Homo sapiens: one gene and its partner. The protein of the gene in region 1 interacts with the protein of each later gene in a biochemical or structural test. Each region holds a gene or a part of one and is shown in the gene's direction. Other genes may lie near its edges.

Region 1 (7,610 bases):
ATCCTTCACATGGCCTCGGTAGGGAAATAAGTTTTTACTTTGATTGCCAAGCTTTTGAATCTCTGCTTTCCATGCATGTGTACATGCAATTTTCATTACCCTTTATTAAGATAATTTGTTTATGTAAATAGCACAGAAATATTTATTAAGTTACTATGTTGCAGATATTGGTATAAGAGTTTGTTTCCATGGAGCTGGGGATACAGGCAAGTAACTAATATAATTTCAGGTCATAAGTGCTGTGGAGAGTAAAGCCCGAGCAAGAGTGTTGGGATGTATAGCCATTCTCTGAAGAATGGCATTGAGTAGAGAGTTGGATGTTGTGAAGGAATGGGCCAGGCAAAGAGCAGAGAGAGGAACAACAGTTCAGAAAAGGCCCTCAACTTGGCGTGCTGGAGGACTGAGAGGGAATATCGGTTCAGAAAAGGCCCTCAACTTGGCATGCTGGAGGACTAGAAAGGTTAATGCAGCGGAGCAGTGAGTCAGAGGATGGGAGGAGACATCAGTTTTTTGCTTTATGAGTTCTCATAAATGCAGAATTTAGTTAAGCAAACTGCGTATTTGCAGAAAACTTCACAGATACAAAATATCCTCAGGAAATCATTGAGAAATTAGTCTTATTTATTTTTTAGAAACTCGAAGCCTGAAGAGGCACAAAGAAATTGAGTAACTATTTCTGAGTAAAGTAGTATGAAAATATATCTGACTATATCTCTGAATGTTTTAGCTGGCCAAGTTAATATAGAATGAATCAATGCTGAAAGAAGACAAGGTTTCTGAAATTTTTTAAAATGGCAAACAGTTGCAAAAAGAGGAGTTTCAAAATCTGTACAATGGCAACAGTGTTGACATAAAAGTCTCTGCAATAGGTATATTACTTTCAAATAAGTAGCATTTATTTAAGTGTAAAGGTTATTTTGTATGTGTGGAATAAGATTTTTAAACAAATAACGGAAGTCAGTTTTTTTATGATTAGAATAAACTATATAGATGTTTTAATCTTTGATTCATGACAAGATCTTTCAGTATTTACAAAGATAAACATGAGTTATAATACATATGTAGAAGGTGAAGGCTGGGTGAATCTGTGTTAATTTTGCCTCCTATCAACGGTTGTTAGAACAAATCTGTTTTCTTAAAAACTGCTTTGAAATTCTGATGGTTTCAATTATGGATAAAAAAGAATTTACATGCCACAGATTTGTGATCTGAAGACTACACAGGATGAAAGGAAGAAAATTATAATTCAAAATTTTGTGAAGGATATAGAAAGATTGGGAAAGCACAATGTTCTTGGATGAAAAAGATTAATATTTTTAAAATGCCAGTTGTGTCCAAATTAATTTTTTAATCAAACACTTACCTTCATAGATGTGATTTTAATTTAAAAAAATGAATAATATGCCCAAACCTAGCTGTGTATTGAAAGGGATGCCCCCACAGATCCAGGCTCTGAGGAGAGGGGTGAGCTGAACAGACTCTCTGGGTCATTGTCTGGTTTGGCCTCACTGGAATTTGAGTCTTTTCAAATGAATGTCAGTGGACAAAGGCATATGTGGACTCTGGAATGTGACAGGACTGTAATATAGTCCAGGTACTGTACATCTGGATATAACGTGATCAGAAGGAGTGGATGCTCTGTATTTTTTTGCTTTGAAGGTCCCCATCGCCAAACTCAGGAGCAGATCATAGTAGAGCACACCTGTGGGGTGAAGTGACCCAGGCCACAGGGCAGAGCAGGAGCTTCATCCCCACAGGCTCACTTAGGCATTAAGTGTAAAAGATAGTACAGCAGTAGAGGGCAGCTGGTGATGACAGTGTGCTCAACCCCATCTCGTGAGTCACACTGTTCCAATCTGGACTGGCTTCTCTCCATTGCTCACGCTCAACTTTGTAACATTATCTTCTCTGTTTTGCTCTGTTGGGTCTCCTATTTCCTGTAGCCTTTGTTTTTTTGTTTTCTGTTTGTCAAAAATACCATAAACAAAATTGAAGCACAAATAATCTAGGAAGAAATACTTGCCATGTATAGGTCAAATAAAAGATTGAGATTTTAAATTCATAAATAGCTCTTAGAATTTATTAAGAATAAAGCAAATACTCCATTTACAAAAGGATAAAGGGAGTAAGGAATTTGTAGAAAAAACAGCCAACAAAGAGGAAAACACCCAACCTCCTTAGTAATAGAGAAAATGCAATTTAAAACATTAATAAAATTTTAAAGTTTCAAAGGAATGATGATACCTGTATTAGATAGATGGACACTACCATATGCTGCTGTTGGGAGTGTAAATTGGTATACTACTTCTGGAGACCATTCTGACAATATGTTAAAAAAAATCATAAAAATGTTCACATTCTTTTATTCATCAGTTTCTGCTCAGGAAATTTTTTTGACTTGAAGTATTTTAGTAATCTTCATTTTGCCTTGAAGGGTTTGTCTCAGTTTAAAAGTTTTTCTTTTATTTGGACAGTAATGTATTCAGTAACCGGTGCTAACTTATAAGCTACTCACTTATATTGCCCTATTTTATAAAACATTTCTTTGTAATTTCAGTCCTACAAGATTATCAATTTTGCCCCCAGTTTACTTCGGATTATAGTCTCTGACCATGTGGAATTCCCAGTACGACAGGCAGGTGAGTTGGTTTTTTATCCTTTATAAATTTATTTATAGGTGAGAGTAGAATGAGAGTTTTATTTTAATTTTACATATCTGTAATTTATTGAAAAATTCAGAAGCACTAGCACTCATGAAGTATTTCCAGTGACTTCAAAACTCACTTTCTTTTTCCCCAGAAATTTAGAGGTAGATACTGAGCTCTCAAATATCTTCTAGCTCTTTTTTTTCCTCCTCTCCCTTTTACCCACCAATTCCTTGCCTCTGTAACTTTGCCCTTATTTTTCTCAATTTTAATAGCTGATCTCTCTAACGTTTTATGATTTCTGGTAGCCTAGCCTCTGGGCCCATAGATTAAGACCATGAATTTATATATGTGAATTCGAGCTCTGTTACGTGGCAAATCATGGAGGTAATGTGTTGCACAGATGTTCCTAACCCAGGTGACTGCGGAGCAGGACTATGTTTTAAACATGAAACTTACTTTTAAGTCTGTGGGATCTTACGTTGTTTCATGATGTTGTACATCGTTCTTTTATCTTGTTTTTTTATGGACTGGTCATTAGAGCCCAGAAGGTTAAAAATTAGAGCCTTAGAGTATCATGAATTTTCAAAAGATAATAATCAAAAGCTAAAGGAGGTAAACGACAATAGCTAATTAAAAATAAGTATTTAAAAAGACTTGTTATGTAAGTGACATATACATGTAAGTAATTTGGACAATTTAGAAGAATACAAAGAAGGAAGTAAAACTACCCAACATTCATCACTCAGAAATGGCCATCATTACTCATCATTAACGTTAGGTGAACATTAGCCTTTCCATGTGTTCACGTAGAAGGATAGATGAACAGTTTCAGAGAAATGGGTCATAATCTACATGCTGATGAAAGTATTTAATTTGATTTGAACATAGAATAAAAAGATAAAGAAATATTAAGCTTTGGGAAGATTTATAACACTATATATGATTTCCTGAAAGATCACTTTGTGGTTAAGATAAAAAAGAAAATCCTATGGAAAAACACTGATGTTGGAATTATTTTTTGCTTTTATAAGGTTTACAAGACTTCTGTGTAAATTTTTGAAACCACAATTGGCACTTGTTTCATCTTTGTTTTATAAAATAGGGCTGTTCTGGAATAACATTTTGTTGAATGGAACCTATTTTAAAAACCTAAGTGTTTATAGGGCCATTGTAAAGTTCCTATGAAGCATTTAAGAAATAACATTTTAAAAGATCTTAAAACAAGTTTTTACATTAATGTCTTCCTTTAATGACATGGAAACATTAGAAAAACACAGTTTATAACTTACATTGTTCTTAATACACCCAAAGATGACTGCCATCAGCTTTGATGCGTGGCTCTCCAATTCTTTTTTTTATATTACACATGCTATTTTACAGTTTCCTTTTTTTCATTTAACCATGTACCCTTGAAGATTGCTCCAAGTCAGTGCATATAGATACTTCATTCTTTATAACAGCTGTGCAGTATTTCTTTATATAAGAATTACCATGGTTTACTTAAACGATTTGATATTGATGGACATTTCGCTTATTGTCTTTTTTTCATTGTTGATAGAAGCAATGCTAAATGAGTGTCATTTGATATGTATCTAGGTACTTGTGGGAGTGTTTTTATAGAATAAGTTATAACAAGGGGAAATGCTTGGCTAATGGATATTTATGACATTTAGAATTTAGAATCTTCTCACTAAGTTGCTTTTGCTTACATTTTCTACCAACAGTGCATTAGAATGCTAGGTTCCCCAAATCCTCACCAACTCTGTACAACTTAATGAAGTTTTGATGTAAAATGTAAACAGCATTGAAAGGCATTTTTTTCTTCATAATTTGTTTTTTCATAATTTAGATTTCAAATCCTAAATTTAAGTGGTATTTATAAATTTTCTGTTCTGTTTAATCTATTATTAAAATACAAGGATGCTCCAAGACACCTAGAAAGATAATTTATCTTTAGCATGACACTTAAAAAAGAATGTTGTGATTTTTGCTTTAAAAGAAAGCCTGTATAAAGCTGTAAAAAAAAAGTTATGCTAATGTTAAGTGGAAATACATCTGCAAAATACTTTTTCTCTTTTGCTTGTGGGCAATCTAAAGTGTTCTTGCTACCATCAAGCGTGCTCACTGGTGAATGTCCTTTCTTACCTTACTGTGAGTTTTCAAGAAACAGGAAAAAATTAAGTATTTTGATGTTGCCAAGCAAAACAAAAAAATTTGAATGTTTGGTCTGCTGCTTTTCTTTTGAGGTGTTGATAAGCATAATAGCATTATTAATATTATCATGTGCGGTGAAGGAAGCCTATCTTAAATTTAGGATAGTTATGATCTGGAATTTCAAATCACTTTTGTTTCTAATTTTTTACTTCTTACATCTGAAGAGACTCTTTAGTAAAATTTCTCTAATATATGTAAATTTAGGCTCAGAAATGTACTTTTTTCAGTGCATTTTGGAGTTGCTACGAGAAGGAGAGAGTAGTTTGGATTTAAAAGTGGTGGTTGAGAGGTATTAGACCTGAAGAGGTCATCAGTGGTGACAGATGTGGGACTGTCATTTAAAAAAATAGCATGGTTTTTGATTTCTATAAGTTTGCCTGCTCCTTGTTGTTTCTTTTTGTTTGTATTTCCAAAGGATGGACAGGGAGAAGATATAACAATTCATTCTGTGGTTATTTGTTTAGAGGTTATTTGTTAAGATTGACGTCAGCATTGCAGAGTGCAGAACCTAGAAATAAACAGAAAGATGCCTCTGATCAGTCCAGAAGCACTTTAAGAAGCTTTTATTAACATTCATGCATTTTATTTGTAGAAAGCTTTGTGGCTTGTGCTCAGAATCTATTTAATATTGTTTTGATAGAATTGACACATTTGTTGTCTAATCTAGCCTTTCACAGAGTAATAAGGGAGAGAAGGGGTACAAAATTACAATGAAAAACAGCAAGACTTAGAAACATCAACTCAAAAGCATGACATTCTGCCCACCGAGATAACAGTACTTTCTCCACTTTGAGGTTATGAAACCCAATTGATTCTGTAGTTGTGTCTCTGGGTCCAGAGCTTAAGTGATGATTCATTGTGCTGAAGGAGAAAAGTGTGTGTGTGTTTTTAGAAAGTTAATTTCAACTTATGATGCTTAAAATGGTGAGTGGATTTTGTAGGAAAACTGTCTTAGAGCAGCCATTTTTATCATAGAATCTGAAATACATTTATAAAATTCTACATTATAACTATCCTAAATTTAAGTGCCATTTGTAGATTTTCTGCTCTATTTAATCTATTATTAAAATACAAGGATGCTCTAAGACACCCAGACAGATACAGTAAATTTAATATTTCCTTTATGAATTGGATTAACATGATATTAGTCCTTTGTTTCTTAGTTCTGGCAAATGGTTTGTATTTAGGCACTTGAATTAAATGATTAAAGGGAAGTTTTCAGATTATTGGTTGATATGGTAACAGTTATCTTTGGTATTTTTCCTTTATCCTTAGTAATCCATAATTATCCATCATAGTAATTAAAATTTTCTTTTTAATATATTTTCAATTTTATTTTACCTCATTGTACATTTATTTAGGCATATACAAATTAGTCAGTGTGCCTTTTTTAAAGGCTGTCTCGTTTGATGCACCATAATTTTTAAATTATAACTTTTCATTTATAAAATTAATATTAATAGTATTTAATGACTAAATCATAAATAAGTCCATGATTTTACCGTGTCTGTATTTTTACTGTCTAAAGGTTGCTTTTCTTTGTTTTCAAGACTAGTTCTATAGGGATCAAAATGATTTTGTGACTAATATAGTTGATTTTTCTTTTTGCAAAGATTGATCCTGTGAAATCAGGCTGGGTGTTCATGCCTGTAATCCCAGCACTTTGGGAGGCTGAGGTGGGTGGATCACTTGAGCCCAGGAGTTCAAGACCAGCCTGGGCAGTATGGCGAAACCCTGTCTCTACAAAAATACAAAAAAATTAACTGGCGTGGTGGTGCACGCCTGTATTCCCAACTACTTGAGAGACTGAGGTGGGAGGATCACCTAAGCCCTGGAGGTGGAGGCTGCAGTGAGCTGTGATTGTGCCCCTGGACTCCAGCCTGGGCGATAGAGTGAGACCCTGTCTCAAAAAAACCCCTAAATCCTGTGAAATCAGTCTGAACTGCTGACAGGTTGGTTCATATCCTTAGATCATTCATTCATTATTTTTTGAATAGTCTATACATTTTTATGGAATGTGTACTCTTTGCCAGTCACTGTTACATAATATAATGACTATACCCGATAAAACATGGTACCTAGTCTAGAGCTTGTGTGGTCTGAATTAAAAACAAGTAAGGGAAAAAAGAAAACTCTAACACACATCCCCCTTTATATAATTTTTGTTTTCACCCAAATGAATTGAAATCATAGATGGAACAGTTTTTCAGAACTTTAGCTACTCAAAACTAATGAAAGAGGAGCTTACCAGATGTCAAGTTCATAATTTCACTAAATTTCTTTTAAGTTTTAGCTAATGTAGAATGTATTGGTGTATTCTTTATGGTATAGTGCTTTGACTACCCAATTTAGTTTTTTTTTTTTTTTTTTTTGACAGAGTCTTGCTCTGTTGCCCTGGCTGCAGTGCTGTGGCATGATCTCAGCTCACTGCAACCTCCGCCTCCTGGGTTCAAGGAATTTGCTGGAATTACAGGTACCTGCCACCATGCTTGGCTAATTTTGGTATTTTTAGTAGAGACGGGGTTTCACCATGTTGGCCAGGGTGGTCTCGAACTCCTGACCTCAGGTGATCCGCCCGCCTCGGCCTCCCAAAGTGCTGGGATTACAGGTGTGAGTCACTGCTCCGGGTCATGAATTTAGTTATATGTTAAAAGTTGGGTGAAGAAAGAGTTGGGTGGGGAAAGAAGAGAAGCTTAAGGGAAGAAAGTTATGCTGCTTTGCAAATCACGTATCTGTATTCTTTACACA
Region 2 (7,773 bases), on another chromosome or scaffold:
TCAAAGCAGCTGTGTCAAGAAGGAAGAGCTGGAAAAGTGGATTTGCTGGGGAATTAGATGCATTTAGTTTTCCACTTACGCACAACTGCCTTCTCCAGTATATCATACCAAGGTTTTTTAGGCCTTTGTGGCTTACCCTGCAGGAACATACTGTGTCCTGTTGTTCTGGACTGTAGCATCTTCACCACCATCCTCTTGGCAATGGTTTTTTGTTTGGGGTTTTTTTTTTTTTTTTTTTGGACAAAGTATAATAATATTGAGGGACCTTTCTAGGGAGCCTTTGGTCCTTTGTCCCCATTTTCCAAAGGGAGGGAACTTTCCTCTTAAAAGAGACAGTGGGAACTTTTAGCCAGGTTTTTGGAAAAGGCCTGTGGGCTATTAATGAGAGTGAGCTGCAAAAGGAGGAAGGGTTTGTTTGGGTACTTTGAAGTACTTAGCTAGGTGTTTTCTACAGTATCTTATATAATTGCATCTTACAGCATCTTTACATGCGAAATAGTTTATCAGTTATCTTCAATTGCATATTACAAAATTCTGATTAAATTTTTCTTAAATAAGAAAACTATCATTTCATATGACAAGAAATCCTAATTTAATGTTACTCCAAGGTTGGTTAATTCAGTGGCTCAGTGATAACACCAAAGACTCAGTTTCTTGAAATTTTTTTGCTCTGCCATCCTCCATGTTTATCCTCACGCCAGTTCGCCTCATGGTCCCAATATGGCTACTGTAATTCTGGGAAGGAAATGCTGACAGAACCGTGTCTGGCAAAAGAGAGACAGATTTTTCTGTGTCCTTCTAAAGCAAGGAAGTCTTCCCCTGGAAGCTCCAACAGATACGGCCTCATGGCTTTGCTAGAAATGGGTCATCTCACTCCTGTCATTGGCAAAGCAAGTAAGATCATCCATCAGGAGTGGCTTAGATTAATGAATTATCCTTTGAGTCGTGTAGACTAGAAAGTTCAGTCATGTCTACTAGCAAGAAAGGAGATAAGGGCTGTTGGATAAGCAGCATCTGGTCTCAAAGGTACTTCAACTTTTACAGATGAGAAACATGAATCAGAGTGACTTTCCCAGGCTCACAGCAAGTAAGAGAGGGCCTTCAGTGTTAGCTGTGTCTGTCCCTAAAGCCCATGTTTTATATTGTATCTTGCTAGAGTATAAAGTAACTTACTTTCTACCTTGTAGAAACTGATGGTCTAGGAGAAGAGATTTGAACTCAGGTGCCCAGTTGACTCTAATCTTGGCCCATGTGAGAGGATTGTACTCAGTTGCTCTCCTCATCCAGTGATGTTTCTTGTCTAACACAAGAAGCCTAGGAGTAGAAAGTCCTAAGCAGAGTAGAATAATAGCGGCAGCAGGGAGGGAAGTGTGAACTGTGTGTCCCTGAGCCTGACTTACTGGGCAGGGACATGACACTTAAAGCGGCAGCTGGCCACTCTGTCTTTCCTGCATGCACTGAGTATTTGGTAGCTCATTAGTGACCAGTGATATTGATCATCTTTTCATGTGCTCACTTACTATCCCCATATCTTTGTTGTTTGCATCTTTTACCCATTGTATTTGTTGTTTTTGAGACAGTGTCTCACTCTGTCACCCAGGCTGGAGTGCAGTCTCATGATCGCGGCTCACTGCAGTTTCTGCCTCCTGGGCTCAAGCAATCCTCCCACCTCAGCCTCCTGAGTAGCTGGGCTTACAGGCGCACACCACCATGCCCAGCTAATTAAAAAAAAAATTTTTTTTGTAGCAGTTCGGTCTCATTAGTATTGCCCAGGCTGGCCTCTCTTAGCTTCAAGCTATCCTCCCGCCTCGGCCTCCCAAAGTGCTGGAATTACAGGCATAAGCCACAAGCCACTGGGCCCAGCCTCTTTTACCTGTTTCAAAATTGAGTTTTATTGAGTTGTAAGAGTTCTTTATTCATTTTAAACACAAGTCCTTTGTTGGATATATCTTTTACATCTATTTTTCCCAGTCTGTGGCTTGCCTTTTCATTTTGAAGAGCAAAAGTTTAAAATTTTGTGAATTTATTAAAGCTCCGTTTGTTGCTTTTTTCTGTTCTAGTTTATACTTTTGTATCATATTTTAGGAAATTTTGCACTGGGTATTTGATGGCTCCTGAGGAGGTTCAACTTTCAGAGCGCACTGATTTCTCTGCACCTGAGATTTTGTACTATTTCTGTATTTCTTTCTTCTCAGAACAACCAGTGTCACCAGGTATGAGGGCAGAGTTTTAGCTTGTTTGCTGAGCCCCATTCTTGAAGCTCATTTATTTATTCACCTATCTGTCCATCAATCCAACAAATATACTGAATGCTGCTATGTGCCAGGTACTGGCACTGTTCTAGGTACTGGGGCAATGACAGTTAAGATAATACCCAATGACCCTGCTCTGTACCCTTAAGAGCAGACTCAGTTGGGAATGAGTTATCCAAATATAGGGTGTACATGTAGTCAGGAGAGAGCCTCATACAGCTTTGCCTTTGGCAGAATCCTTCAAACCTCTTTGTCTTCCTACTTCTTGATATTACAAATCATGAGCCTTTCACATGCATTGACTCTAAAGAGGTGGGTTCCTGGATAGCAGAAGTAGATAGGAAGGCATCATTGACATTTACTGAGATGGATTGAATCAGAGGGTGTAAATTCTGCTCCATCAATGTTGAAAAAGACTAGCCCACCCCAAAGGTTTATCACTGTCACCATGTCTAATGTCTATTCTGGAAGAAGCTGAAGAAGTCTGCCTTTGTTTAGGGAACCGGTTCCAGAATCAGAGGGGTTGAGGATATAAAAGACCCTTGCACAAGAGTTGGTATTTACCCTGTCAGATGCTGCTACCAAGATTTGGATTGTGTACAGTCGAGGATTAAAAATGACTTTTAAGATGCAGTGTTTCATCTGGTGACATTTAATTTGATATTTTAAAATTGGGGAGGGTATTTTCAGCCATGGGGGTAGGGATGTGAAAGAAGAAGAAAGTAAGAATTGGAGTCAGATGTGGTTTTGAGTCCCATACATTTATTGTTTAATATTATATGGTAAGTACTTTAAAATGGTAAATAGTAAATACTTGTGTTATTCACTAACATTTGGGGAGGATTTTCTCTGTGCTTTATGTATATTACCTAACCTTACAAACTGTGTAAGGTACATGCTGTTCTCTCAATTTTTCAGATAAGAAAATTGAAGCCCAGAGAGATCAAGTGACTGATCCAAAGTCCCACAGTGAGGGGAACTGAAGATAGGATATTCTTTCTCCTTTTCCTCTTTAAAAAATTATTTTGATTAAAAAAAACCGTATTACTGAAGCATAGGGACATGGGGAGAAATTATGAATGATTCCTCAGCCTGAATAAAATAGTATGTTTCATTAAGGCAACAAATATTTATTAAGGACCTAATATTTGCCTGACATTCAAGTGAGGTGGGGGGCACACAAGTAGTAAATAAATAACAGACTGGGCAAAGGGCTACCAAGGCAATACTGTAGTAGACTAACAGGTGCCCCACCATAGATGGGTGGTCCGGAAAAGGCGTCTCAGATGTCTTTCGTTGAGACGCAAAAAAAAGCTGTGGGGTAGGGCGTAAGGGGAGGGTGGAGAAGAGAGAGAGGGTTCCTGGCCAAGGGAACCAAAAGCAGAGAAGCTCCAAGTCAGAAAAAAGCAGCGGTTGGCCCGTTGGGAGAATTGGAAGCCAACCAGTATAGCTGTAGCACAGGCGGGGCCCATTTACGCCGTGCGTTTTCACCCTGGAAAGGAGTTTGGGTTTTCAAGTGTGACGAGGCGCTATTAAAGAGTTTTAAACATGGAAATTACTCGATCTGATGTTTGTGTAGTGTCCTGTTTGTTAGTCATCTTTTCCAAACTATAATACATTTTTTTTTTCCTAAAAATGGTCGTTAAAGCAGCCTAGGACTTAGGTCAATTGCGGTGGTCACTTGACCGCCTGTGAGGAGGCGGCGCGTGGGGTGGATCGGACTGGGCGTGGCGGGGGCTCAGGAAGGAGGGTGGCCCTACCCCAGCGGGCTCGGCTCGGGGCCTCCGCGGCAGTTCGGGGTCCTTCACCCGCCGGCTCCAGGTAGGCTACTCCTCAGGTAAGCCCCGCCGCCAGCCGCGACGTCGTCGCAGACAGGCACCGCCCCCACTCGTGCGGCGCGAGTAGTCCTGCCCCTCCGCGTTGTCTCCGGCCGGCACGGCCCGGCGGGGTACGGCCGAGCCCGCCGCATGTGGCCCGGCTCCCGGACACCTCCCCGGCGTCCTCCGCGCCGGCCGCTCCTGCCCCGACGTCGCTCCGGCACGGCTCGGGGCCCAGAGGCGAGGCGAGGACGCCGGGCAAGCCAGGCAGCGGAACTGACGCCGGCGAGCTTCCGGGGCGGCCCCGGGCAGGTCGGCGGCGGCGGCCCGCAGTCGTGGAGGAGCGGTGGGAGCGTCGGCGGCCGCGGGCGATGCAACTTCCGGACGGGACTCCCCTCTGTCCGCGCCTCACATCTCCCCTTCCTCTCGCCTAGTCCTGTGCCGTTTTCCGTCCGCGACTCTTCCGGCCCAGAGCTTTCGGAGTGCGGTTGCTCAGGGGAAGCCGTCGCCGCCCCCGCCTCGGGGCCGAGTGAGAGTGCCCGTCGCGTCGCGCCGCGTCGCCCCCCGGGCCGCCTCCTTGCCGCCAGTGGCGGGCTCCGTTCTCCCTCGAAGCACTCCCCCCAGCTCCATGAATGGAAATCGGCTCCGCAGGTGAGTCAGAGTAGCTGGGCCAGGTAGGGGATGTCACCCAGCTACTGTCCTCTGAGCATCCCTGCTCCTCCCGCCCGGCCCAGGTGCGCGAGGTGAGCGTCGGGCGGGCATCGCTCGGTCTCCCGCCCCTCGCCCTGCTCCTCCGCGACCTCCCCGCAGCCCAGCCCCAGTTCCCCGGGGGCCCCTGAGTCGGCGAAACTGCGAGGCGGGGAAACGCTTGGAGGATTTAAGTTTGGGGTTATCTAGGCGGCATTACTCTTTGCTGGAGTACCCTTCTTCTAGACTTTAGAATGGTTTGCCATTGTCTAGTTGGAGTGCGTGTCCTTTAGCCAGGTTGTGTGTTCCGTAGAGGCTGGGCAGCCAGCCAGCTCCCTTACCTACCTCTTAGGATAGTTGTGAAGATAGGCTGAGATAACGGATAACTTCAGATTAAGTTCGAAGGAGGTGTTGGTGCAACGTTAAATTCAACATGGCATTGCTCCTACCCTCGAGTTCTTTTCTGTTGTTTGTGGCAGCATGGTAGATAGTTTCTGAGGAGCTTGGAAATGTCATAGCAGCCTGGATCCCTGCTTATACGAGGAGGTGGTTCTTAAAATTGCTGACAGTATATTTTTTTTCATTCTCTATTCCTTAGAGAAGTAGTTGTCATATTCCTGGAAATTTGGAATTTAAGAAAACTGCTTTATCTCTGGGGGCAAGAGCAGCAGTTTTGCAGTCTTAAGAGAAAATTGCAACATGGATAGTACTTGTCCTTAAAAAAGGAAAAGTATTGTTTATGGTTCTAAAGTAATTAATTCAGGGACAGAAAGGTGTTGCATAACGGTTTGCCTAACAAATGATCATGCTTGGCTTATTAAATTTGAAAGTATGCTTCAGACGATCACAAGTTCGTAAATTAATTTTCAAAATATTTGCGGGGCTGTCTTGTTACTAATGGTGTTACAAGTTCCTGAATTCCATATCTCTTTTTGCCAATTTGATATAAGAAAAACTTACGTAAAAGAAACCAGTGACATAACGATAGCTAAGAACTTTGTTGAATAGATTACGTGTCAAATGGTTGCAAAAAAGCACTCAAACTGGGGAGATGAGATGGGGAGAGAGTTACAAATTTTTTTTTTTTTTTTTTACAAATTTTGTTACATGGAAGTTTCTCTAATCAATTTAGACCATATCTCTTTTTCCTGCTCCATTGTTTCGCTTTCCCCCATATCGTCTTAAAAGGTCTGTCTGGATTGTGAAAAGATTTCGACTCTTATTCAGTTTTGATTTGTGTATTTCTGAAACTGTCCTGCCCTTTTAAAAAAATTACCATACTACTGTTTTACTGTACAGGAGATGTGATTATTTGGGACCATAGGTGATCTTTGTACATAACTGTCCTGTTGTCAAGTCTGGAAAACAAGTCATGAAGGTCAGACCCTTTATTAATCATCCCAAAACTTTTAAAGATATTTCAAAAAAGTTTTTAAAGTTTTTTCTTTTTCTCCTTAGGGTTTTTCATATGATATTGTGCCCATATATATGGGAAATGTCTTAGAAAACATTTGTTACATCAAACCACCTAGTCAACTGGTACAACTAAGCCAAGTACAGCTCAGAAAATACATTTTACCTCTTCTTTTTTGGGTGTCCCATTGCTGAAATGGATACCCATTTAGCTGTCTTCACATTTGGGGAAGTGTGTAGTTAGATTATCAACTATATGCCTGGGTCTCTTGAAAAGTAAAGTTTTTTCTTCAGTACAGTTTATACATGATTGAATGTAGCCTAATAATGAAGATAAGCTATACTTTGGCTCAAGATTGTCATCAGAAACAAAATTTTCATTATTCCTGAGACTTGTATATAATTGGTATGCTTAGCTTTAAGTTGAAAGCATAGCTGTGCAACTAAATTTTAAATCCATAATTTAGGCTGGGTGTGGTGGTTCATGCCTGTAATCTCAGCACTTTGGGAGGCTGAGGAAGGATGATCGCTTGAGCCCAGCAGTTGGAGACCAGCCTAGGTAACATAGTGAGACCTGCCTCTACAAAAAACAGAAAACTTAGCCGAGAATTGTGGCACATGTCTCCAGTCCTAGCTACTTGGGAGGCTGAGGCAGGAGAATGGATTGAGCCCAGAAGGCAGAGATTGCAGTGAGCTATGATCGCGCCACTAACTCCAGCCTGGGTGACGGAGCAAGACCCTGTCTCAAAAAAAAAAAAAAAAAAAAAAAAAAAAAAAATCATCATTTGACACGTATTTTGATTTTAAAATTTTAGTATAAATGTTCTCAAAAAGTCTATTGACTCAGTATTGAATCTTGGCTTTCCAATTCTGCCATAAGTTTTTCTTTTTTGTGGAGATTCTCAGGAATCATCTTGTGATAGGATATTTTAAATTCTAGTTGCTCGGTGGATACACAGAAAACTGTTAAATTTGTTTACATTAGGGAACCTCGAACACAAATACCATATAAGTTAGTATTTGTTCTTTCATATGAAATATTTTAAATGCTTTTTAAGGATATCTTGTGCAATCTACTGATTTAGTACCATCAGAACTTTGATTTAACAAAAAAAAAGGTGAAATTAGTTAAAAATTAATCAACAGTTTAACATCTGTGTCTGTGACTCTTTAGTTGGGGAACATCTGATGAAACACCGTTTTTTATGGTCTAATTACTGCTGAACTAAGAGTATAGGTTATGTTTCAGTTCTAAATAAAGTGGGAATAGGGAGCTGCAGAAATGCTTGATGATGTTACTTCTCCTGAGTACTCATTTTTTAGGTCCATACTATTCTAGTCTATGTTTTCAGGTAATGTTAGACTACCGTTTAGGACAGAGGAACTACACTTTATAATGGAAGAAAAACATTTACTTTTACCTTAAATTAATGACATGCAAATTGTTTGATGTTTGGTGGAAGTTTTATACAGTCTTGCAAAAGTGAATAGACTGTTTCTTTCTTATTTACACTTTTAAATTCATGTCTGAAAATAGTTGTTTTAGAGTTCTGTGTTTATTTAATAATAAAAGTTTTAGAAAAGTTATTTGGAACCAAGTTCCA

Evidence for each region. Proteins that work in one complex are often made in the same cells at the same time.
Region 2: the proteins of IPO8 (region 1) and AGO3 form a complex in vitro, tested with the Homo sapiens proteins (one study listed by BioGRID).

Annotation. Positions count from the first base shown.
Region 1 is NC_000012.12:30,685,525-30,693,134, reverse strand, and holds part of IPO8 (importin-8), read left to right. Parts: intron 1-2,557; coding exon 2,558-2,639; intron 2,640-7,244; exon of another isoform or gene 7,245-7,335; intron 7,336-7,610. UniProt on the Homo sapiens protein: Involved in nuclear protein import, either by acting as autonomous nuclear transport receptor or as an adapter-like protein in association with the importin-beta subunit KPNB1.
Region 2 is NC_000001.11:35,926,726-35,934,498, forward strand, and holds the start of AGO3 (protein argonaute-3), read left to right. Parts: upstream 1-4,379; 5' UTR 4,380-4,701; coding exon 4,702-4,720; exon of another isoform or gene 4,721-6,134; intron 6,135-7,773.